Linked DNA regions of Homo sapiens: region 2 is linked to region 1. Evidence: fine-mapped expression QTL. A gene starts in region 1. The other region holds a variant in brackets. All regions are shown on one strand. Distances are from middle to middle.

Region 1 (15,585 bases):
AGAATCACTTGAACCTGGGAGGTGGAGGTTGCAGTGAGCCGAGACTGAGCCACTGCATTCCAGCCTGGGAGACAAGAGTGAGACTCTGTCTCCAAAATAAATAAATAAAAAAAATAAAATATAGCTGTTAACTGGATGTGGTAGCTGATGCCTGTAATTCCAGTACTTTGGGAGGCCGGGGAGGGAGGATCACTTGAGGCTTGGAGTTTGGGACCAGCCTGGGCAGCAAAAAATTTAAAAACAACTAGCCCCACACTGTGGTGGCACACCTGTAGTCACAGCCACACAGGAGGCTGAGGCAGGAGGACAGCTTTAGCCTAGAAGCTTGAGGCTCCAGTGAGCTATGATGGTACCGCCGGGTACTCCAGCCTGGGAGATGGAATGAGGCCTCATGTACTTAAAAACATGAATAAAATGTATCTGCTTTTCTTAAGCATTCTATATATTTCAGGCAGTGTGCAAGGTTTGAATTCCAAGTGTTCCACAAATTGGGGATTATTCCTGGTGAGGCCAGATATTCTAGAGCAACTAAAAGCAGGAATGATCTTTCTAGAAGCAGTGAGATCTAGCCTGTAAGCTTAGATGTAAGAGAGGTTTCTCAGACAGGGTTTCAAGATGGTATTCTCTTTACGTGTTTTAATAACCTTTTATTTATTTATTTATTTATTTATTTATTTATTTCTTTATTTATTTATTTTGAGATAGGGTCTGTCACCCAGGCCTGAATGCAGTGGCATGATCCCCGCTCACTGCAAGCCTCAACCTCCTGGGCTCAAGCAATCCTCCTGCCTCAGCCTCCCAAGTAGCTGGGATTATAGGCATGCACCAATGCACAGGGCTAATTTTTAAAATTTTTTTGTATAGATGGGGCCTTGCTTTGTTGCCCACGCTGGTCTCAAGCATCCTCCTGACTCAGCCTCTCAAAGTCCTGGGATTATAGGCTTGAGCAACTACATCTGGCCTCTATATCCTTTTAAATACTGGCTTGGGGAATTGAAAGTTTTTGATGCTAATCCAGTAGAAGTCAACCAACAGAATTTTTTGGATGTTCATTTACTAAATATGGCAACTTTAAATAAAACTTGATGTGGGGAAAATAAAAATTTATAAAGGCACTAAATCGAGAGTTTATTATTTTTGTTATGAAAGGAATCCCTTACATCAAAGACTTAGAACAATGGACCTTTAAGTAATATATCCCTTAGAAGTAGGAGTCCTCATGACATTTTGGGCTGGATAAAAAAAGAAAAAAAAAAAGAAGCAGGGATCCTTGGCCAGGCGCGGTGGCTAACGCCTGTAATCCCAGCACACTGGGAGGCCGAGGCAGGCAGATCACCTGAAAAAATTGTTCTCAATCAGGTAGACAGTAGAATGATAGTTATCAGAGGCTGGGAAGAGTATGTGTGTGGTGGGGGTGGGGACAAAAAGAGGATGGTTAATGGGTACAAATATAAAGTTGGATAAAAGGAGTAAGTTCTAATGTTTGATAATAGAGTAGAATGACTATAGTTAACATCATATTGCATTATTTCAAAATAGCTAGAAGGGAAGACTTGAAATACTACCCACACAGAAGTCATAAATGTTCTAGATGATGGTTATCCTAAATACCTTGACTTGATCATTACACATTCTATGTATGTAACAAAATATCCCATGTATCCCATAAATATATACAAATATTATGTATCAATAAAAAATTATATGATTTGCAAAAAGCAAATGTAACCACATCTTTTCAATGTCCCACCATTTATGCAAAGTAAAGGATATCTCTACAACTACCCTTGCCAAAGAGAAGCTTTTTAGAAGATTAGGTTGTGGGATGAATAAAAGAGGGGAAAACAAGAACTTTGAAATTCAATATCTGAAAGAGCATTCTAAGCTATCAGGTGGAAGAAATGCTCAAAACATAAGAGTAAAGGGTTGAATGACCATGGGTAAATAACAGACAAGTTTATAAAATAAAAGGGGGAAAATTGGTTAATAGTCAATAAGATGCTAACTTAGAGAAGAAGCCAAGTTTAAAAATGAAAACTAAGGTGAGTGGTGAGGGCAAGTGGTGAACAAAGATATTTAGATACAGAAAGGTATGTCAGAGTCACTCATAAAGGATAAAAAGTAGCAAGGGAAGGTCAAGTGGGGGAACTCTGTGGATAAAAGGCAAGCACGGTGTCTAGATTGTCTGGAACAGTTTTGACTTCAAACACTTGCCTGTCAAATCACTTTGTGACGATTTTTAGTTAAGAAACTATGGTCATTTTCCATGACCATGTTTTACCTATTCACATCCATAATTCCTAGCAAAATGTCTTTTTTTTTTTTTTGAGATGGAGTTTCACTCTGTTGCCCAGGCTGGAGTGCAGTGGCATGATCTTGGCTCACTGCAACTTCTGCCTCCTGGGTTCAAGTGATTCTTCTGCCTCAGCCTCCCAAGTAGCAGGGACTACAGGCGCCTGCCACCACGCCCGGCTAATTTTTTGTACTTTTAGTAGAGACAGGGTTTCACTGTGTTAGCCAGGATGGTCTCGATCTCCTGACCTCGTGATCCACCCACCTTGGCCTCCCAAAGTGCTGGGATTACAGGCATGAGCCACGGCGCCCGGCTGCAAAATGTCTGCAGCATAGCAAAATCTCAATAATTATTTATCACTCATGATAATTACCTGAATACTAAAATCAGAGAGAGTACATTAAAAAGAAACACAACGAACCATTCTTAAATAATAAAAACATATTCATCAGTGGTCTTTATTTACTAGCACCAATAAAAAACTAGAAGCTCTGTTTAGCATAGGAAATTGGTGTCATACTCACTTTATAATATCATCAGTGCTGGGTGGGGACAAAGCCATAATCTGCCAAAATCTGCACCATCCTTGCCAGGTTTGGGAGTTCTGTAGAGTAGTTACCACTGCCAGGTCTGACTGCCATAGCTCAGGAAAAGGGTGCAGTCATTTCTCTTAGCATAATCTTGAGAAGATGTCTAAGAGACCTATGTAATATTAAGTCACAGAAAGAAACAATATTATTGGTGGTTTAGACATGGAATGTAATAGCTAACAATTACGGAATGCTTACTTGTTTCAGGAACTGACGTGTTATCTCATCTAAACAATGCTACAGAGCATGGGTACTGTTATTAACCCCGTTTTACAGGAAACCTAGGTTTAGCAAGGTTAAGGAATTGCTTGAGATAACAAAGGTAGTAAGAGGCAGGGGTGGAATTTGAAGCCATATAGTCTGGTTCTTCAGGGTGTATACATCCGTGTATCTATAACCACAATGCTGCAGGGGCACTCGAACAGGCTGGAAAAGAATTATTTTTCTTTAAAGGGCAAATTAATTTCCTCAAAAGTAATCTCTGTTCACTTTATCCCATACCAGATGCTTATTTTCATTTCATATCCTAAAAGTTAGATTGGCACTTACATGCCAACTTAAAATACCTTTAAGTCTTTAAAATTTATAGTATTTTAGAATTTATCATAGTGAAACATGTACAGTCTGTTAGTCCCCAAGACAATAAAATAAGGATGATAGTGACTGATACTCCATTCCCTTCCGATGTAATGACAAACACGTAGAAACACTGTGTTTCATTTATTGGAATTATTTGGATCCAAAGGATTGCTTTTAATACCTTAACAAAATAGGTCATTAAAAAAAATCAAGTGCCTTTCAGTATTCTTCCAAGTTTCAATAACTGATCTTTTCCATTAAAAAACTTTTGATTCATTATTCCAAATCAACATATCATCTAAATATTTACACATAGTTAGATGTAGCTTTTCCCTAACCTACTCCCTTTTATTTATTAGTACTCATTTACATCTTAGTTTGCCACATTTACAGTTCTTTGAAAGTTTCATCTAATATTCACCAGACCATTCACCTCACAATTTTCCTCCCTCTTTCTAAATAGGTGAATTTGTTTACTGCAAAATCGATGGCTACGCTATTAAAGGTTACTATCACGATTTTAAAAGACATGATCACCATCATTTACCAAGATTCTTACCACAAGGAAATGATCACAAGGTTGGACAAACAGGCTCCAACTCTTAAGGGAAAGGGCTTGCAGTTAGATCACACAGGGCGGGCAGGGAAGCAAGCGGGGAGGGGTAGGTCGGAAAAGGCAGTGCTTGATTCAATTCAACATTCACTGCGCCACTTACCAAGAGCCAGAAAAAGAAAAAAAAAAAAAAAAAAAGCCAACCAGCTGGGCGTTATTTCGAGCACGGGGCCCTGCAGGTGGGCCTGTGGGCGGGGACCCGGCGCCCGGGAGGGAAGGGGCTGGCTCAGAGACTATAGACGGGCGGGGACCGCCCCGGCCCGGGCCTCCAGCGCCCGGCGCCCGCACACTCGCCAGCCCAGCTGCCGGCACGCCGGCCAGCCAGCCGCTGCCGCTTACCAGTGGCGCCTCGCTGACTCCCCGGGGGCAGCTCTTCAACGGTTCCCGCAGTCAGAGCACCACCCCGCGGTGGGGTACCTCCAGCCCGCCCGCAGCTCTCGGTCCCCGCCGCGCCGCCACTCTCGCGAGAAGCCAGGAAGTCCGCGAAGTGGGGGGAGGAGGAGCAGGGAGGGGCACTTAACGGTGGTGGCTGGTTCTGCGCCGGATCCGGGAGAGGGGCGGGCGCCATTGTGCTTCGCTGCCGACTGCATTTCCTCAGTCACGGGCCTAGAACTCCAAGGAGAAAGGCGGCGGTGCGTGTTGCTGCGAGTGGGACGCGCACTGGTCGGTGCCGGCTCAGGAGCCGGGGTAATGAGCTGCGGAGCTAGTTCTTCTCCGTCTTGGGCGCTAGTTCGGGACCAGGCCGCGAGTGGGGGAGGGGAGGAAACGAAGAGGCCTGGGGACGCGGAGGCCGCTTCCTCTCAGGATGAGGTGGAGAAGCTTGGTCCGGGGCCACCGGGGCCAAGGGGCCACAGCGCAGGCCTCCCTTGCCAGGGGCCTTTGGTCGGGTGGTGGAGTTTGTGGCGGGTGCAGGGGACAGATTGTGTGTCTTCCTCAGGGACGTGTGGCGGGTGACGGGAAGAAGCCTGAGCCCTCCTTTGGCGCGGGGCGGCCTCCTCTTGGGCCGTGGGGCGGGGGGTCTTCGGAGCCCTGCGGGCCGCGGGTGTCGCGCGTGAGCTCGCCGGTGAGCGCGGGGCAAAGGCGGGCAGGGCTCCGGCTCGGCCAGCCCGGCCTCGAGTCGAAGTGACTTCGGTAGCCCCTTAGATTCGGCCAAGATTGTCTTATTGGTAACGTCAGTTTTTGAATATCGTGACGCCCTGAGAGTTATTTTTGTGTTGTGGTGAATTGTGGGTTCTGCAACTCGAAGTAGGTGATTGTATTAAAAATGGACCTGTTGGCCTAAGAAGTAAAAATATAGAAGGCGCCGGGAGTAGGAAACTCCCTCATTTTGGTGAAACTGCGTATTGAAGATGTGTGTCCACCCCCTCACCCCAAAATGCTGCACTTAATACTTTTTCTCAAGTACCAAAGTAAATATATTGGGAAAGTCTATCTGGGTAATAAATTCGTCACGACTAATGTTGTTTGTTACTATTAGTTAAATGTGTGAAAACTGAAATTTGGCGAGGTTTTCTCCCCCATTTTGTAGGATTGATTAGCTATTTTTCTGATTACATGTTATTTTAAATCTCCACCTTTCTGTCCAGAACCAAGATGTAGGATTAAAGATGAATTTTCGATTTAAAAATCCAATAGTATACAGTTATTAAGAAGGCACACATGTAGTGTAACTAGATCTTTTACTTGAGGTAGCAAAAAGTTTGTTTGAGAAATGAGGTCAGTATAATATTTTTATTTAACAGCTCTACAGCATTTTGGGAGACAGGACTGGTGCATGAGGCAGTAGCACCAGACTCAGAAGACCTGGGTTTGAGTCTTGATTTTTGCCATAGTTATTTAAGTTCACGAGATTGTCTCAGAAACATGGCAGTTAATTTCTAGAGAGGATTAAATTTGCTGAGGTGGTGTGTGAAGCAGTCACTAGGGGACATAATACTAGTCTTGGTTTTTTTCCAAGTTTAGTGCTGGGTCAGGTGTCTTGAATTAAGAATTCCTACTTATTCAAGTACAAATGATTTCTTTTTTCTGCCACCTGGAAGAGGGCTATTTTCCCAGATAAAGCACGAGGATGCCCAGGTTATGTTCTACATGAAGGTGTCAGGTAACGAACTTGGACACAAAAGTCATCCATGACTCTCATGTAGCCAATTTTTAGTCCGCTCCATACCCACCTTACACAACTCTTTTATCTGCTCTATGTTCAAGAATCGTCTACATTTTGACATTTTATTGTAGGAAAATAATTTTATAATGCAAAATCTGTCAAATATCTTAAAACTTTTTTAGATAATTTGTAATTTGTTGTAGTCAAATTACAAATTATGGAGAGCTTCACATTACAAGAATGAGCTTGACATGGCATCTGCCCTCCACAACTCACTGTTTAGTCATCAGACTAATGTATAAACAACTATTATTATCTTAATATGACTGTACAGTGGTTCTGTGGGAGCATAGGGGAGGGGTGCTTAATCTTGGAAATTTTACAGGATTTATTTATTTATTGCCTGAACTAAGATGTGAAGGCTCACTAGGACTTTGATAAAGAAACTGCAAAGTCATGATATTATGGTTTGTTTTAGGAATTCATGATTTGTTCCTGTAGCTGAAACATACATTGAATGGTAAGTTAGAGCCCGACATAAAAGACTTTCTGTACTGTACTAGAAAATTAGTGTCTGGGTGTGGTGGCTCACTCCTGTAATCCCGTCACTTTGGGAGGCCAAGGTGGGAGGATCGCTTAAGGCTGGGAGTTCAGCCAGGCCACAAAGACCCCATCTCTACGGGCATGGTGGTGCGGGTGTAGTGGTGCGCACTGCTACTACTAGCTACTTGGGCTGCTGAGGCAGAACGATCATTTTGAGCTCACGAGTTGCAGAGACTGCAGTGAGGTATGATAGAGCTCCACTGCACTCCAGCCTGCACCACAGAGTGAGACCCTGTCTCTAAAAAAATAAAAATAAAGTTAGTGCTCTATGCTGCGGAATGGAGAGCTATTGTGTTCCTTAACAAAATAAAAATAATTTTTAGATAATCTTTGCTGATACATCCTTCTGTTACCACAGATAATTAAGTGCCAGTAATAAAGAACAATGGGACATGAATGAATGAAATGCACAGCGTTGCATTAGACTTTACTTTTAAACAACAAATTAACTAATGAAGCTTTTAACTGTTAAATAAGTGAATCAACTGATCACATTAGAATGATTACAATTTAAAAAGAATCGGATTTTGAGTTCCTACTAAGATTACTTGAATTCACCAAAGCAGAATTCAATTGCAGTCAAAAAATTTATCTTAATATACAGCATTTGCTAATCATAGGATGAGCCAAAAAGTCTGAAGTTGGGGAGAATGAAATTATAATTTGAGAGTTTAGGTGGGGGGGGTAATAATTTTGTGTGTGTGAGTGTGTGACAGGGTCTCACTCTGTTTTTTAGGCTGCTGCAGCCGCAGTCTCCCAGACTCAAGCAGTTCTCCCACCTCAGCTTCCTGGGTAGCTGGGACTACAGGTGCGCGCCACCATGTCTGACTAATTTTTATATTTTTTTATAGAGACAGTTTCACCATGTTTCCCAGGCTGGTCTCCAACTCCTTAGCTCAAGGAATCCTCCCACCTCAGCCTCCCAAAGCGCTGTGATTACAGGCCTGAGTGTGAGTCACTGCATGCTGGGGTTTAATTTTCATTAATCTTAATTTTCAGCTTTCTGCCCTGGCATGAACTTACATGGTCAGAGCTGGTTTTTCCTGCCCTCAAATATATTTCTCTGACTCTACCGGTTAGACTAGGTAAGTTGAACACCTGGTTTTAAAATCACCTGCTGCTCTACACCCATTTTTGTCAACAGCTTAAAAAGAAGGCAAGTTTTGAACCTTAAAAGTAGTTATCTTTCCATTATGATCATTGTTCATTAGTGTGATGTTTCATACTTTGTAGAAAGAACCCTAAAATGGTTTCTACTTAAGATCGAAACTTGATGCTTAGAGATTAAATTCATTTCAAGGAGAACAGTTTGCCTTTTACAGTGGTGTAGTGTAGACTTAACATCATAGTCATATTTTCTCATGGGATGTTAAGCTTTTTTCTAATTTTTTAAGATTTGGGCATGTCATATTTTTGTGTTTTAAGTATTTGTCAGCTAAAAGTTAGTTAAGGGAGACTTTTTTTTAAGGCCCAAAATGTTGTATACTTTCAAAGTGATTCCCTCATTGACCCACCCTTAGCTTCCATGTCTCCATGTTTACTATGATTTCCCACTAAGGAAAAAAAAAATTTCCCCAGAAGCAGATTTTTTTTTTTAAGAAAAGGATATGCAAAGTATATGTAAATAATGAAATAGTAACTGCGTGTTTGTATTTCTGCAAGACTCTTGAAATATTGCATTGGGGCTGGGCATGGTGGCTCACTCCTGTAATCCCAGCGCTTTGGGAGGCCGAGACAGGCAGATTGCTTGAGCTCAGGAGTTCAAGACCATCCTGGGCAACATGATGAAACCCCGTCTCTACTAAAAAAAATACAACAATTAGCTGGGTATGGTGGTGCGTGCCTGTAGTCCAGGCTACTCAGGAGGCTGAGGTGGGAGGATCACTTGAACCCAGGAGGTCGAGGCTGCAGTGATTGCACCACTGCACTCTGGCCTGGGCAGCAGAGTGAGACCCTGTCTCCAAAAAAAAAAATGATAGATTACATTGGTATTTTGTGTGATTGCTCTGGCCTTTGTGCCATGAGTTTATCCTATAGTAGTGGTGTACTTTTAGTAATTCAGTACCTGTAATCTTCCCTGGATATTTAAGATAGTTCCCAGGTTAGACTCAGTTAAAATCAGAGTTTTCAGAGACTGCAGGCATAAGATAATGGTATGGTAACAGTAGAAAATAAGGATAAGTAATGAATCTTTGTTCTATGGCTGCATAACAAACCACCTCGGGACCTAGTGGATTAAAACAACTGTTCACTGTTTTTTACAGTTCTAGGTGCCTGTTGGGCAGTTCTACTGATTTTGCCCGGGGCTTACTCCTCATGTACCAGCATTCAGCTGGAGGATTTCCCTGGCTGGGAGATCCAAGATGGCATCACTCATGTTTGGCAGCTAGTGTTGGTGGACATATAGGCCTTACTCTTTGTGATCATTTATGACACAGGAATCTTGGGACAGTATTCTAAGAGAAGCTTGTAAGACCTCTTACAACCTTGAAAATCTTACAGTGTCACAGTCCATTCTCTTAGTCACACAAGACTGGGGTGGGGAAGTAAGACTGCCTCATCCTAGGCAGTGCAGCAACGTTGCATTACAAAGGGGGCTAATACTAGGATGGGGGACATTTGTAGCCATATTTTGTAATTTACCATAGGTTCTTTAGACCACTATAAGAATAGATAGCCTCAAAGATGTCATGCTTGGGATTGCTTTAAAATAATAGAGTGGGTGGTAAAATAGGTTAGGGAGGTTGAATGTGGATAATAGTTGAAGACTTGATTGGTACATGGAAGCTCATTATTGGCTGTACCTTTGTGTATGTTTAAAATTTTTCATGATAAAAACTTTAAGTCATACTCAGGTAATCTGAACTTCATTTTGTGAAGTATTTTAACTTTATCTTTCACTTAGTCTTTACTAGAGTTATTTTTGTGGTAAGTAGCTACTAAGGCTGTAAACCAGCAAATTAGAAAGGGAATTATTCTCCTTAGGACTTCTGTAATACAAGTTATTTTAAAAATGCCTTTTCCTCTGGCAAATAATTGTTGCCCTCAATTAACAAAGTACATTAAAGAATTTTTTTGAAAACTAAGTATAAAGAAGAAAAAACACATTAATAATACCATCACCCGAGATAACAGCAAAATAATAAAAATGGCTATTTCTTTCCAGTTGTTTAATGCATATACTTAATATAAGTAATCTTGTATAGGTTTCTTTACCCTGAAGTGAATATCCTGTATGTAAATCTGAATGACTTTGAAAGATGTTTTACTATGTGTTAAAGACAAATTTCAAATAATGAAAAAGCCAACAAAATTTCTACTGAGCTGTTTATATGAAAACCTTCATGCTGATGGTATTGGTTAATAATAGCTAGTATTTGCTGAACACATGCTGTGTGCCAGCAAACCTCACAATATACCTGTGAAGTTGATACTATCATTATCACCATTTTGTAGGTGAGAAAATTAAGCATTAGATTATACCTAGAGTCATACCCAAGCATACCAAGTGAGGGGCAGACTTTGAAGCTTGCACTCAGCTAGCGTATTTCTACAAATAGAAATTGGCTGATGTGCAAAAATTAGGCAAAGATTGACTTATTTCCTGCCTAGCCTAGCCTCAGTTTTCTATTTTGGAAAAAAATAGGAAATGAATTTTATTAATATATTAAATACATATTTATTAATACATTAACATACAGGAAAAGACTTTTAGGTGTGGGAGGTAGCATGTGTTAATAGGGCTGAGGCATTTTTGTTAGACTGGTTATTTTATGACTACTGTGTGACTCTTGACAGATACCTGATCAAGGCCATTATTGTAATAATGGGACACAGTGATCCGTAGCATAATGGAAGGGGATACATAATACTTGAGAAAAACCTTCATAAGCAGAATCAGAGAAAAACTTTTGGACATTGTACTGCTTTTAGGAGTTCACAGCTTTCCAAATTTGATAAACTAAAAATCCAAGCTCTACCTGGTAGGCAGCTTGTGGTTGTGGTCAGAGAAAGCTTTAATCATAAGTAGGGTAATTGGTAGAACTCCTTTCCTCCTAATGTTCTCTTAAACTGCCTGAAGTTTTTCAATTTACTTTTTCATAGTACCCCAAATTCTACTAGAGATAAGTTTGTGGGAAGAGTGCCAAATAGAAGGTACAGTATAAGTAGAAGGCAAGGAGGTAGCATATGTATCTGGAAAACAGTAAATAAATCAGTGTATGTAACTGAAAAATATACCGTCAGCCACACTGCTCTCCAAAACTGTATTTCCAGCGTTCTCCTGGACCTTCTGGGCACTTCTAATTGCTTATTATTATTATTTTCAGAAAGTGTCTCACTCTGATGCAGTGGCGCGATCTCCGCTCACCACAACCTTCACCTCCCCAGGCTCAGGCAATTCTCCTACCTCAGTTTCCGAGTAGCTGGGATTACAGGTGTGCACCACTACCGCCCGGCTAAATCTTTTTTTGTATTTTTAGTAAAGACGAGGTTTCACCGTGTTGGCCAGGCTGGTCTGCTTATTCTTTTTTAAAAATATTTTTTGTAGAGACGGGGTGTCAATATGTTACCCAGGCTGGTCTTGAACTCCTCGCCTCAAGCAATCCTGCCCTGGCCTCCCAAAGTGCTGGAAGCCACCACAACCAGCCAGACAGCTCATTTTTCAAAACCAACTAATCTTGGTGTGCTTCCTTGACCACCCCCCACCACCACCCCGCCCACTCCCAATCCCCTGAAAGAAAAACAGTAAAATGTTTGTTCTTCATCAGTATTATAATTGCCTCCCTTCCCAGTTATTAGGTAAATCCTTTCTGACTTGAAGTATGTATTGAATCTGACTTTTATCCATTTCCACGACTTTGGGTCCTCATCCTTGGAGCCATGTCTCTTCCCGTAATGATCCTAATACTAATTTAGTTTGAGGGGATTTTTTTCTAGCTTATTTCCTCCTTCCCCAGTTTTTCAATTTTACCTAGTCTATTGTTAAACCCATCAGTTTGCTTGTTTGTTGACATTGGGGCTATGTCTTGGTCTGGTTCTGCCATTTTATCTCTTGGTAATGGGGTGATTTTTTTTCCTTGCATTTTTGTGTATCATACAAGTTTTGACTAAATGCTAAACTAAAAACAGAACAGATTAGAGACTGAGATAAACAATATTTATGCATTGATATGGGCATATTCTTCTGTCGGGGCATTAGTATGGTGGGTTGACTTTGTTTTGTCTGTAGTCGAGATGGATATGACCTTTATTATTGCTTTATTTACCTTCAGAGTATTCCAGTAGTGGACTGCCGCTGCCTAGTGCTTAGTATGAGGCCAAGAATGTTGGAGCAGTGTCCCGCCCTCCCCCCTCCAGCCCCAAGATGGAGTCTTGCTCTGTTGCCCAGGCTGGGGTGCAGTGGTGCCATCTCGGCTCACTGCAACCTCCGCCTCCTGGATTCAAGCGATTCTCCTTCCTCAGCCTCCCAGGGAGCTAGGATTACAGGAACGCAACACCATGCCCCGCTAATTTTTGTATTCTTAGTAGAGATGGGGTTTCACCATGTTGGCCAGCCTGGTCTTGAACTCATGACCTCGTGATCCTCCTGCCTTGGCCTCCCAAAGTGCTGGGATTACAGGCATGAGCCACTGCACCCAGCCATGGAGGATTTCTGAAGAGTCTAGGCCAATTATCTTACATAATGTCTTCCATTTTGGGTGTCTCATCCTCATGGTGGTATTTATATTATGGCTATTGTATATTTGTTAAAAAGTGCTCTTTTTGCAGTTTCCTGTTCCTTGCCTGTATTTTTCAAGCTTCTCTTTATTCAAACACACTAAGCATAGTTTTATAATCTGCCTGAAATGCTTGATTTGATGTTTTTGCTACCCTATTTTTTTTCTCTCATCTTGTGTCTCAAAGACCTTGTTTGTAGTATCTTATTTTGCTGTATACTTAGTTATCCCTTGTTCGTTATACTTGAAAAAATACTTGTAGAAATAATTTGAAAGTTAGCATGAAGGTATATTCCTCTAGCAAGATTTATGTTGGCTTCTGCCATGTTCCTGGTAGATTACTAAATTGGGACCACCTTAAACCAAATTCAGGATTTGAACTTCCATTTACCAAGCAGGCAACATTAACCTGGGCTGCAAATCTGCACAAGAGCTGGTTTACTTCTATTAATAGCTTAACTCTTTCCGCAACCGCTCAAGACAGAGTCTTGCTCTATTGCTCAGGCTGGGGTACAGTGGCATGATCTCGGCTCTCTGCAACCTCTGCCTCCCGGATTCAAGCAATTCTCCTGCCTTAGTCTCCGGATTAGCTGAGATTACAGGCGCGAGCCACCACACACGGCTATTTTTTTTTTTTTTTCTGTATTTTTAGTAGAGGCGGTTTCGCCATGTTGGCCAGGCTGGTCTTGAACTCCTGACTTTGTGATTCACCCTCCTCGGCTTTCCAAGGTGCTGGTATTACAGGCATGAGCCACCACACTGGGCCTAATACCTTAACTCTTAATCTGAGGTTGTGGTCTTTTGGAGTCCACCTTATTGTGAGGAGGTGGCCTGTTAAGATTCCTTACCTTGTTTATGTCCTGGATATCTTCAGAGTTTCTTAGGATGCCCAGAGGAATGGAGTCACTCATTTAAAAAAGCAGTTCATTTTTTTCATAGCTAAAGCAAGCCCACAGGTTTGTGAGATATAGACAGACTACATAAATTGTTGAATTGGTATGAATACAGGTTTTTTACTCTTGTTGCTGTGTCAGCCACTATTAAAATGCCTTAAGGTGAAGACATACTTAACAGAGTAAAAGTATGTCTTATTAGGTAAACTAGCAGCTGCATTATCAGCTTCAGAGAATCTTCATCCAGAAACTTCATCTCAGAAGTCAAAAAGTTCAATAAGTGAAAAATCTCAAATACCAATCGTACGATTTTTGTCTGTGTGTGTGTGGCTTTGTAGCTAATTAGATTCCTTACACACTCAATACCAGTTCTGGAGAATAGAAAGTGTAGCCTCTTGTCAGTGCCTCCCCTTCCTCAGTCATAGACTTGTTGATGAGGAACATGAGGATAAAATTCTAGTGGATCTATCATGACTGGGACTTCAGTGAGGCATACTTCACTGCCCTATCTGACTCCACTTATAAAACACAAATTCAAAGATAGAATTTCAGGATGTCAGTTGCAAAACTTTTAATGAAGCTTGGAGCCCACACCTACAAAATCAGCCCTGGTGATAAGTTTCTTATCACCAAACAGGAAGATAGCCTAACTGTCCAGCTCTGAAATGAAATCTGAATTTTAAAAAGCATGACATAGTGACAGAAGGAAAAGACCATTTCATTGACCATTGAGGAAAGATTGTACATGTGAACTTTTTTTGCGCTATTTGTTTTTAAGTCTTGGTTTAAAACATTAAGCTTCAAATGCCTCTTTCCAGTAGTCTGCTCTTGCTTATACCTTTTTCTTTTTTCTTTTTTTGTTTTTGAGACAGTCTTTCTCTGTTGCCCAGGCTGGTGTGCAGTGGCCCAGTGTTAGCTCACTGCAACCTCCACCTCCCGGGCTTCAAGTGATTCTTGTGCCTCAGCCTCCTGAGTAGCTGGGATCACAGGCGCGTGCCACCACACCTGGCTAATTTTTGTATTTATAGTAGAGAGAGGGTTTCACTGTGTTGGCCAGGCTGGTCTCGAACTCCTGGCCTCAAGTGATCCACCTCGGCCTCCCAAAGTGCAGAGATTACAGCTGTAAGCCACCATGCCCAGCCTATACCTTTTCCTTTGTAGCACTTAGAACTATTGAAGTTATGTGATTATTTGTGTAGTTTGTTCCATATTAGACTACAATTTCTTTACAGGCACCATCTCAGAACGTTTAGTGTTGTCCCCCTACCTCATTCGCTTGTTAAGTATTAATTACTGTGCTTAGTGCATGAGTATCCAAAAAACTTGGTTAAATGAATGAATGGACTTGAAAAGATGTCTCTTAGAACCTTCTAAGTGATTCGATAGAAGTTTTTCAAGGACTGCACATTTTTGTTTTTCACTATATTTTGTGCTTTTGACCTACAACTTACGCAACCAAATTACATAAGTTTTCATGTAACACCTACATTGTCAAAATTCAATCAATTTATGTAGAGGAGTTGCCAAAAATAGTTCCATACAATATCAAATTATCTCTCTCAAAGGACTCTGCCTCTTTGCCTTCTCCCAAGGAGGTTTGTTTTAAGCAGATTTCCTACTAGGTTAGTTTAGTTCTGCAAGTAAGAACTGGGTGTAAATGTAGTCAGAGTAAACTATAAGAGGTATTATTAGGAAACATTATTGTTGTTATAGAACTTAATATTGACGTATGTCTTTTAAAAAGCATTTTGTTTCCCAAAAATCCTCTGATTGCAAATACAGTCCCTTTAGTGTCTTCATAGCTGCCTTGATAAAATACCACATCTGCTACTTGTTAAATTGTTCATGGGCTTTTGCATTGTCACTGTTTAACCATTAATATTCTTTTCTCTAATGAATGCCTTTAAAAAATTTCCAGTTCAGAATTTACCTCTTTTTAATGAAATATTTTGTATGGACTTACCAAATACGTATATAGTTTGTAAAAAGCCGATGGTAGAAAAGATTTCTAAGTTAGGTGACCATATGCTTTATCATCCAAATGAGGCCACTTTTAAGAGACAGCGTAGGTACTATTAATAATTATTCTGGGATAATAAGCATAAATTAGAATTTTTCAGCACATAAACTGGGACTGTTCTGGGCAAGTGGGGAAATATGGTCATCCTGCTTCTAAGGAAAAGAGCAGTCCTT
Region 2 (16,716 bases), 140 kb before region 1:
AAAAATAAGATGAGGTTAAAGATAAGGGTGGAATTAAAAATGCATTCAGGGGCCGGGCGTGGTGGCTCACACCTATAATCCCAGCACTTTGGGAAGCTGAGGCGAGTGATCACCTGAGGTCAGGAGTTTCAGACCATCCTGGCCAACATGATGAGACCTTGTTTCTACTAAAAATACAAAAATTAGCCAGGCATGGTGGTGTGCACCCGTAGTCCCAGCTACTCAGGAGGCTGACGCAGGAGAATCGCTTGAACCCGGGAAGCAGAGGTTGTAGTGAGCCGAGATCACACCACTGCACTCCAGCCTGGGCAACAGGCTCAAAGAAAAAAAGAAAAAAATTCATTCAACAAGACCCTGTAACCTTTGTTACTGGGGGGAACCTATAAATACATGGCTTTTAGTTTCCTGTTCATCAGTGCAGAGAAGAAATGGCTGTCATATACAGCTTTTATTTGTTTATATCACTTACAGTATTCATAAGGTAAAAATAAATCATTTTCTTGAAAGAAGCACAGTTTTTTTTACTGAGACCTAAGGTAAATCATTTTACTGAATTGTCAAAGATACTGCAGCAATAAATTCAATGTGTTTTGTAGGACTACTTCTTTAACATCTTTCAGAGTTCGTCAATGGCATATTGCTTGGGCATTTTAGCTAAAATAAGAGGGTTTGAGAATGTTGCACATTATTTTAATTCCAGGATGAGTTTGCAATATCCAGAGTAGCAGTATTCCACATGTTTCAGGTATTCCTCCCTAAAATATTACAATTTAAAAATCAGGCTGGGTGTGGTGGCTCACGCCTGTAATCATAGCACTTCAGGAGGCTGCAGCGGGCAGCTCACGAGGTCAAGAGATCGAGACCATCCTGACCAACATGGTGAAACCCCATCTCTACTAAAAATACAAAAATTAGCTGGGCATGGTGGCACGCATCTGTAGTCCCAGCTACTCGGGAGGCTGAGGCAGGAGAATCGCTTGAACCTGGGAGGCGGAGGTTGCCGTGAGCCAAGATTGTGCCACTGCACTCCAGCCTGGGGAAAGAGTGAGATTCCGTCTCAAAAAACTAAAAATAAATAAACATAAAAATCACAATAAATTTTTTTGAGATAAAACTCACCATTTTAATCTCTGGAAAGTGCACAATTCAGTGGTTTCAGTACATTCACAATGTTGTGGAACCATAACCACTATCTAATTCCGGAACATTTTATCATTCCCAAAAGAAACAACATATCAATTAAGCAGTCACTCTCCATTCCTTGGTCTGTCTCTGGTGAATTCTCTTCCTCCTCACCCATCAGATGTATTGCCTAGCTAATGAACAGCTGATGTCCATAGAAAATCATATTGTTAACATTCAACAAAAACTTGAAATTGTCAAATAATCAGAAAAAGGTAGATATTAAAGCAGCATGCAGCCTTTCAACAAAAACTATGAAAATCAATAGATTATAGCTTGAAAAAGAAAAAGCATGTAATTTTTTCATCATGACTGGATTAAGGCATGCAACAAAAAAATTATCAGATGAATCAACTGCTGAAAATGATTAAATTTGTACTTATATGTAATTTAACTATAAATTATTTAAATGAGTTCTTAAGTTCTCATTCATGAGAAAGGAGTTCATGCAGACTGAAAAGTTAAAAAAAAAAAAGCTCTTTTATTTTGGAACTTTAAAAGTAATACTAGTTTTATTCTCTTTCAACAGTGTTAGCTAAGATGGTTGCCTGGATTGACAGTGCCTGAATTACTCTGGACTGAACGGGCAATATGTTTCTTTAAAGTTATGGGAATAGAAGATACTGATACATGCTCAAACTAATTAATCAGATTCAATTAGTAGCTAAAGTGAAAATAACACTTCTGAGTTTCCTAATTGTGATTCTTAAGAGCTGAATTTTCAACAATAATACTGGGAGAAGAGGACAAGGTCATGAAAAGTTGTCAAACTTATATCACCTGAATATCTAAATTTGATTAGGCATAAATTGTAATTCACTACTATCTTAGTACATGAGTTTTATTATACTATTTACAAGTTTTCCCTCATATTAGGGTTTTCGTGACACTAGATTACTTGAAATGATCTTTTTTTTCTACTTATTGATGCACTGGCAGCATTTACTAAATAACAGTTAATAGATGTGATCCATTCCATAACAAATTATGCCTTGACTTACAATTTCAACATATATCTCTATTATAAATGAAACATAAGCATTACATATTTACACTACTCAGCGATGTTCTCAAAACAACCAAAAAAGATTTAAATGAAAAATAGATTATTGTTCTCAAACTGCTAGTGAATGAAACAAGCATAAAAGATAGAATTAATCAAAGAGAATGGCTACCCACAGTCTCTGAAAAAATTATGACATGAGCTATTCAAGATGAAACAATGATTGTTTGGGGAGCAATTCAAAGAATATCAACTTTTGCAACACGTGCAGATTCTGTTCTTCCTTTCCTTATATCTAGGCAAGACAGGCAAAAAATTTTTAATAAAAATAAGAAACAAATTTAATGCTAAACTTCTGTAATTACCCAACTCCCCAGCAAGTTTTCTAATATTAAGCAGAAAAAGTATAAAAAGATACAAATATAATATTTGCATTTTTTTGAGAGTTGGTAGATTTAGGATTTTACAAAGTAACATATAATAAAAGATATTTAAACTTTAAAAATGTACTTTTTAGATTCAAAACTCAAAAATGATTTCACTTTTCTAACATTTTTCTTGTCATAGTGTTTCAAAAATGTAGCCAGATGCGGTAGCACACACCTGTAATCCCAGCACCTTAGGAGGCTGAGGTGATAGGAATGCTTGAGCCCAGGAGTTTGAGACAGCAGTGAGCTATGACCACCCCAGTGCACTCCAGCCTGGGTGACAGAGCAAGAGCCTGTCTCATAAAAAAAAAAGTACATAAATGAAAATTAGGTAATTTTCAGCAGTTAATTCACCTGTGAGATCATTTTTATTGTTGTCTACCTTAATTCAAGTAAGCCAGGTCAATAGATTAAAATACAAAAAAAATCCATGATGAAATAAGTCTGTGCACAGTCTCTGATACATAGTACGTTTTCAATATACATGTGTTAAACTAAGTTGTATATATTATCTATGCCTCACCTTCCTCTGAGGTACAATACCAGTGTAAGGAGAATAAAGATTCTTATCTATGGTTTAAAACTTAAAACTTAGAATGTTCTTACTTAGAAACCAAATTCACTTTAGAAAACAGAATTTCATTAAAGTTTTTTTTTGTTTTTTTTGTTTTTTTTCTGGAGACAGACTCTCGCTCTGTGGCCCAGGCTGGAGTGCAGTGGCGCAATTTCAGCTCACTGCAATCTCCACCTCCTGGGTTCAAGAGATTCTCTTGCCTCAGCCTCCCGAGCAGTTGGGACTACAGGCGCACGCCACCATGCCTGGCTAATTTTTGTATTTTTAGTAGAGACAAGGTTTCACTGTTGGCCAGGCTGGTCTCAAACTCCTGACCTCGTGATCCGCCCGCCTCGGCCTCCCAAAGTGCTGGGATTACAGGCGTAAGCCACTGCGCCCGGCCTCCTTACAGTATTCTTAATGGGATTTCACAATATAGAAGAAGACAGGATATAAAAAATGTAAGTAATACTCAATTAGAAAATCTTTCCTATATATCACCCTGAGAAGATAGTGACCTCACCTTGACTGACCCTTTCCTGTCATTTATATCCCAGCACATTTTTCACCCTTTCTCTGTCTCTGTCTTATTTCCACTTGTCAAGCAAAAAGCAACCTTCTCCAGAAATACTTTTTAACCTCTGACCTCTCCCTTCCAACTCTAGTTGTGCTTCATAGCACTCCCTGCAGGTTGGATAAGTGTGGTAATCCTAATATTCCATAAGATGCTGTGCATATCTTTATCATTGAATAATTTATCCCCTATTGTTAGCATTTTCTTTTTTTGTTTTTTTGAGATGGAGACTCACTCTGCTGCCCAGGCTGGAGTGCAGTGGCACAATCTCAGCTCACTGCAACCTCCTCCTCCTGGGTTCAAGAGATTTTCCTGCCTCAGACTCCCAAGTAGCTGGGGTTACAGGTGCCTGCCACCATGCCTGGCTAATTTTTGTATTTTTAATAGAAACGAAGTTTTGCCATGTTGACCAGGCTGGTCTTGAACTCCTGACTGCAAGTGAACCGCCCGCCTTGGCCTACCAAAGTGCTGGGATTATAGGCACGAGCCACCACGCTCAGCCAGGATTTTCTTTTTATCAATTTGTTTTCTGTCTTCAAATTTCATAAAAGCCAGGATTATGTCTGATACTGATGGGGTTCAGGAAATGCTCTCCCAAAAAACATGACACTGTGACATACTGAATATTTTAAGCTAAAGAAATCTGAGAAACAGCATGTGTGGGAAGCTTAGCCATGAATCTAGGATGTGTAGATATATTTTCTTCCCTATAATATATAGTAGATGCTGTGGTGTAGTAATAAATATTTGATCTTTACCCCTAGTTACTGGTACAGAAACCTAAAAACCCTGGAATTTACTGTCTCTTATGCTAAACAGATGATTTATGGGGTGGGGAGAGCTAGACAGCATCATCATGGGTCTGCTCTGCAGAAAAACCAACCACATGATTAGGGAGTTAGAGCTTTCAGGCCTACTCCCTGACATCCAGAGAGGGGAAAGGGGCTGAACACTGAGTTCAATTGCTAATGGCCAATTGTCTTAGTCCCTATTCTGCTGCTATAACAGAATGGCACAGAATGGGTAGTTTATAAATAATAGCAGTTTATTTTGCTCACAGTTCTGGAGGCTGGGAAGTCCAAGAGCATGGCACTGGCATCTTGTGACGGCCTCCATGCTCCATCATAACAGGATGGAAGGGCAAGGGAGTGCCCGAGATAAAGAGAGGATATCTGTCAAATCCATCTCTTGATCAGGAGCCTACTCCCAAGATAACAAACCCACTTCCCAGGTAAGTGCATTAATCCCTTCATAAGGGTGGAGCCCTTGTGGCCTAATCACATCTTCAAGGCTGCACCTCTTAATACTGTTACAATGGCAACATCAAGTTTCAACATGATTTTTGGAAGGGACATTCAAACCACAGCACCAGTTTTCATCAAGCATGCCTATGTAATTAAACCCCCATAAAAACCACTAAATTACGGGATTTGTAGAGTTTCCAAGTTGGTAAACAGATCCATGTGCTGAGAGGGTAGCACACTCTGACTCCAAGGGGACAGAGACTCCTATGCTCAGGATCCTATTACACATTGCCTTATATACCTTACCAACTGGATGCTCATTTGTTATCTGTTATAATAAACTGATAAGTATAGCACTTTCCTGAGCTCAATGAGTCTCTAGCAAATAACTGAAACTGAAGGGGGTTGTGGGAACCTCTGATTAGTTTCAGCCTGTCAGAACTGTGAGTAACTGAGAGACCCTACTGGTGGCTGGCATCTGAAGTGGGGACAGTATTATGGGACTGAGACCTTAAACTGTGGGGTCTACAATAACTTTGAACAGTTACTGTCAGAATGGAATTAAATTGTTGAGACAAAGTTGGTGCTGAATAATTGGAGAATTTGTTTTTGGAAAAGCACACACAATACTCAATACATTTATTTTGGATAAATCAATAAATAAGTGAAAGTGAACAATAAATAGAAGATATATTAAACTACTCATATATTTTATTATTATTATGCATAGGCATGTTTGTAACACTTTTTAGAGCTAGATTTTTGCTGTTCTTGCAATTCATTTGTATTGAATTTTTCCATATAGATAGTGCTTGCTTTTATATTTTACAATTATTTTAACATAAGTACATGCTTTTAAACTATTATTTTCAAGTTTAAAAACACTTAAGCCAACATCCATTACCAAAACCAAAACAAAAACAAAAATCAGATTCTCCTTTATGAAACACAGAGATTAGCATGAATGTACCTGCCTCTCTCTTAATATTATTTATCCTAAGCAACATGAGAATGAGGATTGTGTTTAATTGGAATTTTCTTTTCCAGAGATTAACAGGGTGCTTAGAAGATGAGAAGTGCTCACTACCTGCTGGAAAATAAAAAGAAATATTATGAGGGCAAAATATCAAAAAGAGGACCAGAAAGTGGGAAACGAGATAGTTTTCTAGAAAACTGAAAAAGGACTAAAAAATTAGGGGTGGGGTATAACTGAATTGGGCCAAAGATTATAAGTGACCTTGAAGAAAGTAATTTCAGATAAAATAGCATGAAAAGTTAAATTTTGGATTATTTTGGCCAGGATTGCCAAAATAATCTTGAAAAGGAAGAATAAAGTTGGAAGGCTCACACTTTCTGATTTCAATTTACTACAAAGCTATAGTAATCAAAGCAGAGTAGCATGGCTTAATGCTAGACCTTTAGATCAACAGAATAGAATTGAGATTCAAGAAACAAACCCTTGCTTACATGTACAGTCAAATGATATTTGACAAGGGTGCCAAAACAATTCAATGGGGAAAGAATATCTTTTCAACAAAAGGTGCTGGAACAACTGAATATCCACATGTAAAAGAAGGAAACTGGACCCCTACCTCACACCATACACAAAAAGGAACTAAGAATGAATCAATGACCCAAACGTAAGAGGTAAAAACGTAAAATTCCTGGAAGAAAATAAAGGCGTAAATCTTCTTGACCTTGGATTAGGCAATGTTTACTTAGATATGGCATCAAAAGCACAAGCAATCAAAGGAAAAATAGATAACGTGGACTTTTGTCCTTCAAAGGACACTATCAAGAAAGTGAAAAGACAACCTACAGAATGGAAGAAAATATTTGTATATCATATATCTGAAGACAGTTGTATCCAAAATATATTTTTAAAAAACACTTATAACTACTCAATAATTAAAAACAACACAGCCAGGCACAGGTGGCTCACATCCATAATCCTAGCACTTTGGGAGGACAAGGTAGGTAGATCGCTTGAGCCCAAGAGTTCAAGACCAGCCTGGGCAACATGGCAAAATCCCTTACCTACAAAAAAATATAAAAATTGGCTGGGTGTGTTGGCATGTGCCCATAGTCCCAGCTACTTGGGTGGCTGAGGGGGAGGATCCCTAGAGCCTGGGAGGTTGAGCCTACAGTGAGCCATGATGTGCCACTGCACTCTACCCAGGATGACACAGTGAGACCCAGACCCTGACAGATGGAGAGACTGACAGACACACACACACACACACACATACACACACACACACACACACACACACACACAGCACAATTTTAAAATGGGCAAAGGGTTTGAATAGATATTTTATCAAAAGAAGATACACAAATGGCCAATAAGCATAAGAAAAGATGCTCAATATCATTAGTCATCAGAGAAATGCAAATCAAAACCACGAGATGGCACTTCACACTCACTAGAATGGCTAAAAAACAAACAAACAAACAAAACAAAACAAAAAAAACCTAATAAGTGTTTGTAAGGATGTGGGGAAACTGGAACCCTTACACAATGCCAGTGGGATTGCAAAACATTGCAGCCACTTTAGAAAACATTTTGGCAGTTTCTCAATAAGTTAAACAGAGTTATGTCACCCAGCAATTCCATTCCTAGTTATATGCACAAGAGAACTACAAACATATGTCCATAAAAAAACCTACACGTATGTAGGTTTTGTACATGAATGTTCACAGCAACATTATTCATAATTATTCAAGTGTTCATCAAATAATAAATGGATAAACAAAATATGACACACTCATACAATGAAATATTATTTGGTAAGAAAATGAAATGAAGGCTGGGCGCGGTGGCTCACGCCTGTAATCCCGGCACTTTGGGAGGCTGAGGCAGGTGGATGACGAGGTCAAAAATTCGAGATCAGCCTAACCCCATCTCTATTAAAAATACAAAAATTAGCTGGGCATGGTGGCATGCGCCTGTAATCCCAGCTACTCAAGAAGCTGAGGCAGGAGAATCGCTTGAATCCAGGAGGCGGAGGCTGCAGTGAGCCAAGATCCTACCACTGCATTCCAGCCTGGGTAACACAGCAAGACTCCATCTCAAAAAAAAAAGAAAAGAAAAGAAAGAAAAAAGAAAATAAAATGAAGTTGTAATACATGCTGCAACAAGGATGAACTTGGAAAGCATTATGTTACATGACAGAAGCCAGTCACAAAAAACCATATATTGTATAATTCCACTTACATGCAATGTCCAGCGTAGGCAAATCCATAGAGAGAGAAAGTAGGATAGTGGGTAATGGGAGTTGGGGGAACAGGAAATGGAGAATGACTCCACAGGGAGTCCTATGCTTCTATGCTCAGGACCCTTTTGGACCTTCCCTCATTCATACCAGGGTTACTCCAGCCTGGGCGACAGAGCAACACTCTGCCTCCCAAAGAAAAAAAACCATGCAGAAAGGGAGAGTAGATAGCCTGAAAGAGGTTAAAATATACTGGATAAAAAATAGAAGTGAAGTCAATTCAACAGGCATGTATCAAGGGCTTACCATCTTCTAGACACAGAGTTATAAAGAGTTATAATATTAGGGATATAAAGGTAAATGGAGGAATTCATTAAGTTGAGAAGGCTTAACAAACCTTTGCCTCCAAAGAAGTCAACACCCAAATGATCCAAATGAAATTACAACTGCTTTTAAGGTTGGACCACAGTATTTGCCACTACTTAATTATTGAACCTCTCTAAGATTCCTAACCTGTAAAGTGAGGAATGGAGACCCTAGATCACTCACTTCTAAAATTTGAAGAGTCAAAACAATGTTGGTAGACTAGAAATTGGAATAATAGGTCAAAATCCACAAAAAGCATGATTATATGTACTCCATTAACATGATTATAAAACTCTTGAAGTGATACTAGTATGTACTCAAGAATATCATTTTCAAAAGAAAAAAATTTTAACATGATTGAATATGAAATCTCCAAAAATACATTCTTAGAAAATCTAAGAATCTATATGTTTTCCTTCATTCATTTTAGACTACATGAAGTTTGGAGGACAGAAAGCTCAATTCTACAAACAGCAGCCTAAAATGCTAGGACCAAAATTCACATACATTAGTAAAATATCTTTCCTTTAAGATTTAGAAACTTAAAGAATTTCTGAGAAACAAACAGCTTCACAACATTACTAAGAATATAAATTAGCTCCACAATGTTATTTAAAAGGTCAACTAAACCTAGCTGCTCTTACTAAGAATCAGTAAGGGAAATCTGAATTTGATTCCTAGATTTACTATACACTAGCTTTGTAATCTTGGGCAAGTTACTGAGTCACATCTCAGTTTCCTCAACTGTAAGTAGAACAAATATACCCACCTAAAAGAATTCTTGTGAGGATTACACAAATAAATATATGGAAAGCTCTAACAGCATAACAT[C/T]GATGTGGTCAAAAGATGTTGACAGATAATTTACAGAAAAAAATAAAAGAGATCAGTCTGGTCAACAAAGTGAGACCCCGTCTTTACAAAAAATAAAAACGAACAAATAAATAAGAAAGAAATAAAGCTGACCAATACATGAAAATAAACTAAATCTTGCAGAGAAATGCAAATTTGAACAAATTTGAGTTATCATCATGCACCAATCAGATTATCAAAGGTTTAAAAAAAAAAAAAAAAGAACCCAGAATTGGTAGTTTTAGAGTGAGTGTAAATTGATACCACCACTCTGAAAGGCAGTTCAGTAACAAGTATAAAAGTTTTGGCCAGGCACGGTGGCTCACACCTGTAATCCCAGTACTTTGGGAGGCTGAGGCAGGTGGATCACGAGGTCGGGAGTTCGAGACCAGCCTGGCTAACATGGTGAAACCCCGTCTCTACTAAAAATACAAAAAATTAGCCGGGCATGGTGGCAAATGCCTGTAGTCCCAGCTACTTGGGAGGCTGAGGCAGGAGAATCGCTTGAACCCAGGAGGCAGAGGTTGCGGTGAGCCGAGATCACGCCACTGCACTCCAGCCTGGGCTACAGAGTGAGACTGTGTCTCAAAAAAAAAAAAAAAAAAAAAAGGAAAGTGTGGCCAGGCACGGTGGCTCACACCTGTATTCTCAGCCCTTTGGGAGAACAAGGTTGGAAGACTACTTGAGCCCAGGAGTTCAAGAGCAGCCTAGGCAACACAGTGAGACCCTCATTTTTCCAAAAAATTTTAAAAATTAGTTGGGTGCAGTGGTGTATGCCTCTAGTCCCAGCTACTCGGAAGGCTGAGGCAGGAGGATCACTTGAGCCCAGGGGGTCAAGGCTGCAGTGAGCCATGATGGCACCACTGCACTCCATCCTAGGTGACAGAGTGAGATCCTATCTCTAAAACAAATTTACTTAAAAAATAACATGTTCCAAAACATATTATTGATTAAAAAGGAAAATTACAAACCAGTAGAGTATGACCTTATTTTTATAAATGTGTGTGTATATTTACAGGGAAGAGCATTTACCACGTTAAAGAGGTTAGCTCCAAATAGTAGAATTTTAAGTGACTTAACTGTCTTTAAAAAATTATTTCTGCATTAGTTACACTTTCTGTAAGTATGCATTACCTTTATAATCAGAAAAAAACTATTTTGATTTCTTTAAATAAATTTGAAAAACAAAGAACTAAAAGAGGATACCAGTTCTTGGTCCAATGATTGTTTTCACTACACAAAATGATCTGCTTGATCCAAGCAAATGTTCAGTTAGGGAGGAAAAATACTTTAAATGTGCCCTAAGATTAGAGAAACCTGACAGCCTAGGGAAAGATGAAAAATAATAACAATTATGTGACAAGACTCAAGAATATCTCTATCTTAAAACGTATCTGCTTCAGTTTAGATTGACCAAAGTCCTTTTATACACCACAAGAAATAAAAGTAGGTACCTTAATGGGAAGGAGAAAGGCTAAAGAAATAGCTAAGAAACTTACTAAACACACTGAAACTTATAATACTGCTTTTCAAGCTATTCTTAAAGTAATTAAAAGAATTATTCAACATGAGAAAAGAACTAGTTCATTTATGTTAGAGGACTTAAGTAATTTAAAGAAAGCTACATCAAATTGTCTGAAACCTCACTTGTTTTCACTTGTCATTAATTACCTACCAAGATATCACCTGCTGACAAAAAGAAAAACCTAAAGACATAGAAACTTTAACTTTCCCTAGTATGAACACATGAAAACTGTTCTTTTCCCTTATAAAAACTCTAGTGCTTAGCTTTCTTATTTGAATTCAGGAAAGAGTACTAAATGAAGACAAAAATTCAAAGCAAAAGGAACAACACTGAACAACAGAGTCAAGAAACAGACTGTGGTTTCAATTTTCTACTAACTCTTAATTTTATAAGTAAAACAAGAAGATTGACAAGAGCTTCAAATACTTTTAATGGAGGATCAGTGATACAATACACTCTTTGAAAAATTCACAGTTCATAAAAAAAAGAAAAGTTCTATGGTAAAATAAGTTCAGAAAATTGTGCACACCCTTTGCCCTTTTTGGAGATCCATAATGCAGAACAGAAAATACTTCTGTATAACCCAATGTTTCCCAAAATGAGAGACAAACAAAATGTCCCTCAACAAAGGAATGATTTAAAAATGCTTACATTAGACAGATCAACGAGACAAAAAGTTAACAAGGATATCCAGGAATTGAACTCAGCTCTGCACCAAGCAGACCTAATAGACATCTACAGAACTCTCCACCCCAAATCAACAGAATATACATTCTTCTCAGCAACACATCGCACTTATTCCAAAATTGACCACACAGTTGGAAGTAAAGCACTCCTCAGCAAATGTAAAAGAACAGAAATTTTAACAACTGTCTCTAGGACCACAGTGCAATCAAACTAGGAATCAGGATTAAGAAACTCACTCAAAACCGCTTAACTACATGGAAACCGAACAACCTGCTCCTCAATGACTACTGGGTACATAACGAGATGAAGGCAGAAATAAAGATGTTCTTTGAAACCAATGAGAACAAAGACACAACATACCACCACCTCTGGGACACATTTAAAGCAGTGTGTAGAGGGAAATTTATAGCACTAAATGCCCATGAGAAAGCAGGAAAGATCTAAAATTGACACCCTAACGTCACAATTAAAAGAACTACATAAGCAACAGCAAACAAATTCAAAAGCTAGCAGAAGACAACAAATAACTAAGATCAGAGCAGAACTGAAGGAGACAGAGACACAAAAAAACCCTTCAAAAAATCAATGAATCCAGCAGCTGGTTTTTTGAAAACATCAACAAAACTGATAGATCGCTAGCAAGACTAATAAAGAAGAAAAGAGAGAAGAATCAAATAGACGCAATAAAAAAATGACAAACGGGGTATCACCACCGATCCCCCAGAAATACAAACTACCATCAGAGAATACTATAAACACCTCTACGCAAATAAACAAGAAAATCTAGAAGAAATGGATAAATTCCTGGACACATACACCCTCCCAAGACTAAACCAGGAAGAAGTTGAATCCCTGAATAGATCAATAACAAGCTCTGAAATTGAGGCAATAATTAATAGCCTACCAACGAAAACAAGTCCAGGACCAGATGGATTCACAGCCGAATTCTACCAGCGGTACAAAGAGGAGCTGGTACCATTCCTTCTGAAACTATTCCAATCAATAGAAAAAGAGGGAATCCTCCCTAACTCATTTTAATGCCAACATCATCCTGATACCAAAGCCTGGCAGAGACACAACAAAAAAAAGATAATTTTAGACCAATATCCCTGATGAACATCGATGCAAAAATCCTCAATAAAATACTGGCAAACTGAATCCAGCAGCAAAAGCTTATCCAACACGATCACATTGGCTTCATCCCTGGGATGCAAGGCTGGTTCAACATACACAAATCAATAAATGTAATACACCATATAAACAGAACCAAAGACAAAAACCACATCATTATCTCAATAGATGCAGAAAAGGCCTTCAACAAAATTTAACAGCCCTTCATGCTAAAACCTCTCAATAAACTAGGTATTGATGGGATGTATCTCAAAATAATAAGAGATATTTATGACAAACCCACAGCCAATATCATACTGAATGGGCAAAAACTGGAAGCATTCCCTTTGAAAACTGGCACAAGGCAGGGATGCCCTCTCTCACCACTCCTATTCAACATAGTGTTGGAAGTTCTGGCCAGGGCAATCAGGCAGGAGAAAGAAATAAAGGGTATTGAATAAGGAAAAGAGGAAGTCAAATTGTCCCTGTTTGCAGATGACATGATTTTTTATTTAGAAAACCCCATCGTCTCAGCCCAAAATCTCCTTAAGCTGATAAGCAACTTCAGTAAAGTCTCAGGATACAAAATCAATGTGCAAAAATCACAAGCATTCCTATATACCAATAATAGAGAAACAGCCAAATCATGAGTGAACTCCCATTCACAATTGCTTCAAAGAGAATAAAATACCTAGGAATCCAACTTACAAGGGATGTGAAGGACCTCTTCAAGGAGAACTACAAACCACGGCTCAACAAAATAAAGGATGACACAAACAAATAGAAGAACATTCCATGCTCATGGATAGGAAGAACCAATATCGTGAAAATGGCCATACTGCCCAAGGTAATTTATAGATTCAATACCATCCCCATCAAGCTACCAATGACTTTCTTCACAGAACTGGAAAAAACTACTTTAAAGTTCATATGGAACCAAAAAAGAGCTCGCGTTGCCAAGACAATCCTAAGCCAAAAGAACAAAGCTGGAGGCATCACACTATCTGACTTCAAACTATACTGCAAGGCTACAGTAACCAAAACAGCATGGCTACAGTAACCAAAACAGACATAGAGACCAATGGAACAGAACAGAGGCCTCAGAAATAATACTACACATCTACAACCATCTGATCTTTGACAAACCTGAGAAAAACAAGCAATGGGGAAAGGATTCCCTATTTAATAAATGGTGTTGGGAAAACTGGCTAGCCATATGTAGAAAGCTGAAACTGGATCCCTTCCTCACACCTTATACAAAAATTAATTCAAGATGGATTAAAGACTTAAATGTCAGACCTAAAATCATAAAAATCCTAGAAGAAAACCTAGACAATACCATTCAGGACATAGGCATGGGCAAAGACTTCATGACTAAAACACCAAAAGCAATGGCAACAAAAGCCACAATTGACAAATGGGATCTAATTAAACTAAAGAGCTTCTGCACAGCAAAAGAAACTACCATCAGAGTGAACAGGCAACCTACAGAATGGGAGAAAATTTTTACGATCTACCCATCTGACAAAGGGCTAATATCCAGAATCTACAAAGAACTTAAACAAATTTACAAGAAAAAAAAAATCAAACCACCACGTCAAAAAGTGGACAAAGGATACGAACAGACACTTCTCAAAAGAAGACATTTATGCAGCCAACAGACACATGAAAAAATGCTCATCATCACTGGCCATCAGAGAAATGCAAATCAAAACCACTATGAGATACCATCTCATGCCAGTTAGAATGGCGATCATTAAAAAGTCAGGAAACAACAGGTGCTGGAGAGGATGTGGAGAAATAGGAACACTTTTACACTGTTGGTGGGACTGTAAACTAGTTCAACCATTGTGGAAGACAGTGTGGTGATTCCTCAAGGATCTAGAACTAGAAATACCATTTGACCCAGCTGTCCCATTACTAGGTATACACCCAAAGGATTATAAATCATGCTGCTATAAAGACACATGCACATGTATGTTTATTGCAGCACTATTCACAATAGCAAAGAATTGGAAACAACCCAAATGTCCATCAATGATAGACTGGATAAAGAAAATGTGGCACATATACACCATGGAATACTATGCAGCCATAAAAAAGGATGAGTTCATGTCATTTGTAGGGATATGGATGAAGCTGGAAACCATCATTCTGAGCAAACTATCACAAGGACAGAAAACCAAACACCGCATGTTCTCACTCATAGGTGCGAATTGAACAATGAGAACACTTGGACACAGAGTCAGGAACATCACACACTAGGGCCTGTCGGGTGGGGGGAGGGGGGAGGGATAGCATTAGGAGATATACCTAATGTAAATTACAAGTTAATGGGTGCAGCACACTAACGTGGCACATGTGTACATATGTAACAAACCTGCACGTTGTGCACATGTACCCTAGAACTTAAAGTATAAAAAAAATGCTTACACATCACTGTATAATCCTTTTAAAGAAAACGTATTTATATATATTCACATGGCAGACTTCTGTTGCATAGGTAGAATATATAATCAAACTGCAGAATGCATATTTAATTAGATTTTAAAAAATAAGTATATATATTCATGTGCATATTAAAAAGGTCTGAAAGAATGTACAGCAAACCATTTTAAAGTAGTTCTGGAAACTGCCATCAGCAGGGCCAAAGGGAATATATTTACTTTATGAATGGACAGATTTGAGTTTCTCCGGTAAGAATATATCGCTTTGTAATACAAATAAGTAGCCACCAGAAAACATAAATGCACTGGGTAAGTTCACATACTTTTTTTTTGAGACTCTGTAGCTCACGCTGGAGTGGTGTGCGATCACGGCTCACTGCAGCTTCAGCCTCCCAGGTTCAAGCTCAGCCTCCGGAGTAGCTGGGACAGCAGGCCAGCACTACAACGTCTAAATAATTTTTGTATTTTTTTTAAGAGATGGGGTCCCACTATGTTGCCCAGGCTGGTCTTGAACTCCTGGACTCCAGTGATCAGCCCACCTCAGCCTCCCAAAGTGCTGGGATTACAGGTGTAAGCCACTGGGCCTGGATGTTCATATTATTTAAAATAAATCTTTTCACAACAAAAATCTATTGGCTCTTTTATAAATATGAAATTTAACACATTTCTTCTAATACAATGTATCTCCAGGTTACTGAATTAAAGACTTCCTAAGATATTCACTGAAGCGTTACCTATAAAAATATACACTGGGAACACTTAAATGCTTATAATAATCAATAGTTAAGTAAATGACTAAATATCAACCCAAGAGAATTTTTCAATTTGCCTATTTTGTTTATGAATTGCCTACAGTTTTATAAGGATTTTGAAAGCTAACTCAACAAAAAATAATGTGTATAATTATATAGAATACATAGCAATACAAAATACTTATACATATAAGTAAAAAAAATTCCAATGCATATTTGTGTTATTTTACCTGTAAAAAATATGAAATATATTCTTTTTTCTTTTCTTTTTTTTTTTTTTTTGTTGAGACGGAGTCTCACTCCTGTTGCCCAGGCTGGAGTACAGTGGCGCGATCTCAGCTCACTGCAACCTCTGCCTCCCAGGTTCAAGTGATTCTTCTGCCTAAGCCTCCCAAGTAGCTGGGATTACAGGTGCCAGCCAGCACACCCAGCTAATTTTTGTATTTTTAGTAGAGACAGGGTTTCGCCATGTTGGCCAGGCTGATCTAGAGCTCCTGAGCTCAGGTGATCTGCCTGCCTCAGCCTCCCAAAGTGCTGGGATTACAGGTGTGAGCCACCACATCCAGCTATGAAATATATTCTTTCATAAATTGAGCAAACATCATGCAAGTCATGTATGTTTACCGCTTATGAAACAGACTGCAGGAGTCACAGCACTTGCCAATCAAGAAGCTTACAGTCAAGTGGAACAAACATAAGTAAATCAATTATTATAGTACAATGGCATTCATTCATTCCATAAAAACGTATGTAGTGCCTACTGTGTACCAGATATTGTCTA

What was found.
Region 2: its variant is fine-mapped to the expression of MARCHF7 in whole blood (INTERVAL, PIP above 0.99). The same link has a PIP of 0.9 or more in fibroblasts.

Annotation. Positions count from the first base shown.
Region 1 is chr2:159,707,900-159,723,484 of GRCh38, forward strand. It overlaps MARCHF7 (membrane associated ring-CH-type finger 7), which reads left to right and starts at 4,607. Exons shown (of 12, transcript NM_001282805.2): 1 at 4,607-4,707; 2 at 6,658-6,699; 3 at 7,782-7,867. It also overlaps a transcript of BAZ2B not described here. RefSeq lists silencers at 4,056-4,565, 5,086-5,205 and enhancers at 4,182-4,848, 4,616-4,895.
Region 2 is chr2:159,566,912-159,583,627 of GRCh38, forward strand. All of the region lies in intron 1 of BAZ2B (bromodomain adjacent to zinc finger domain 2B), which reads right to left. Among named protein-coding and RNA genes, the nearest start is that of BAZ2B-AS1, 40 kb to the right of the region's middle. The variant C/T (reference allele first, on the strand shown) is at 9,397.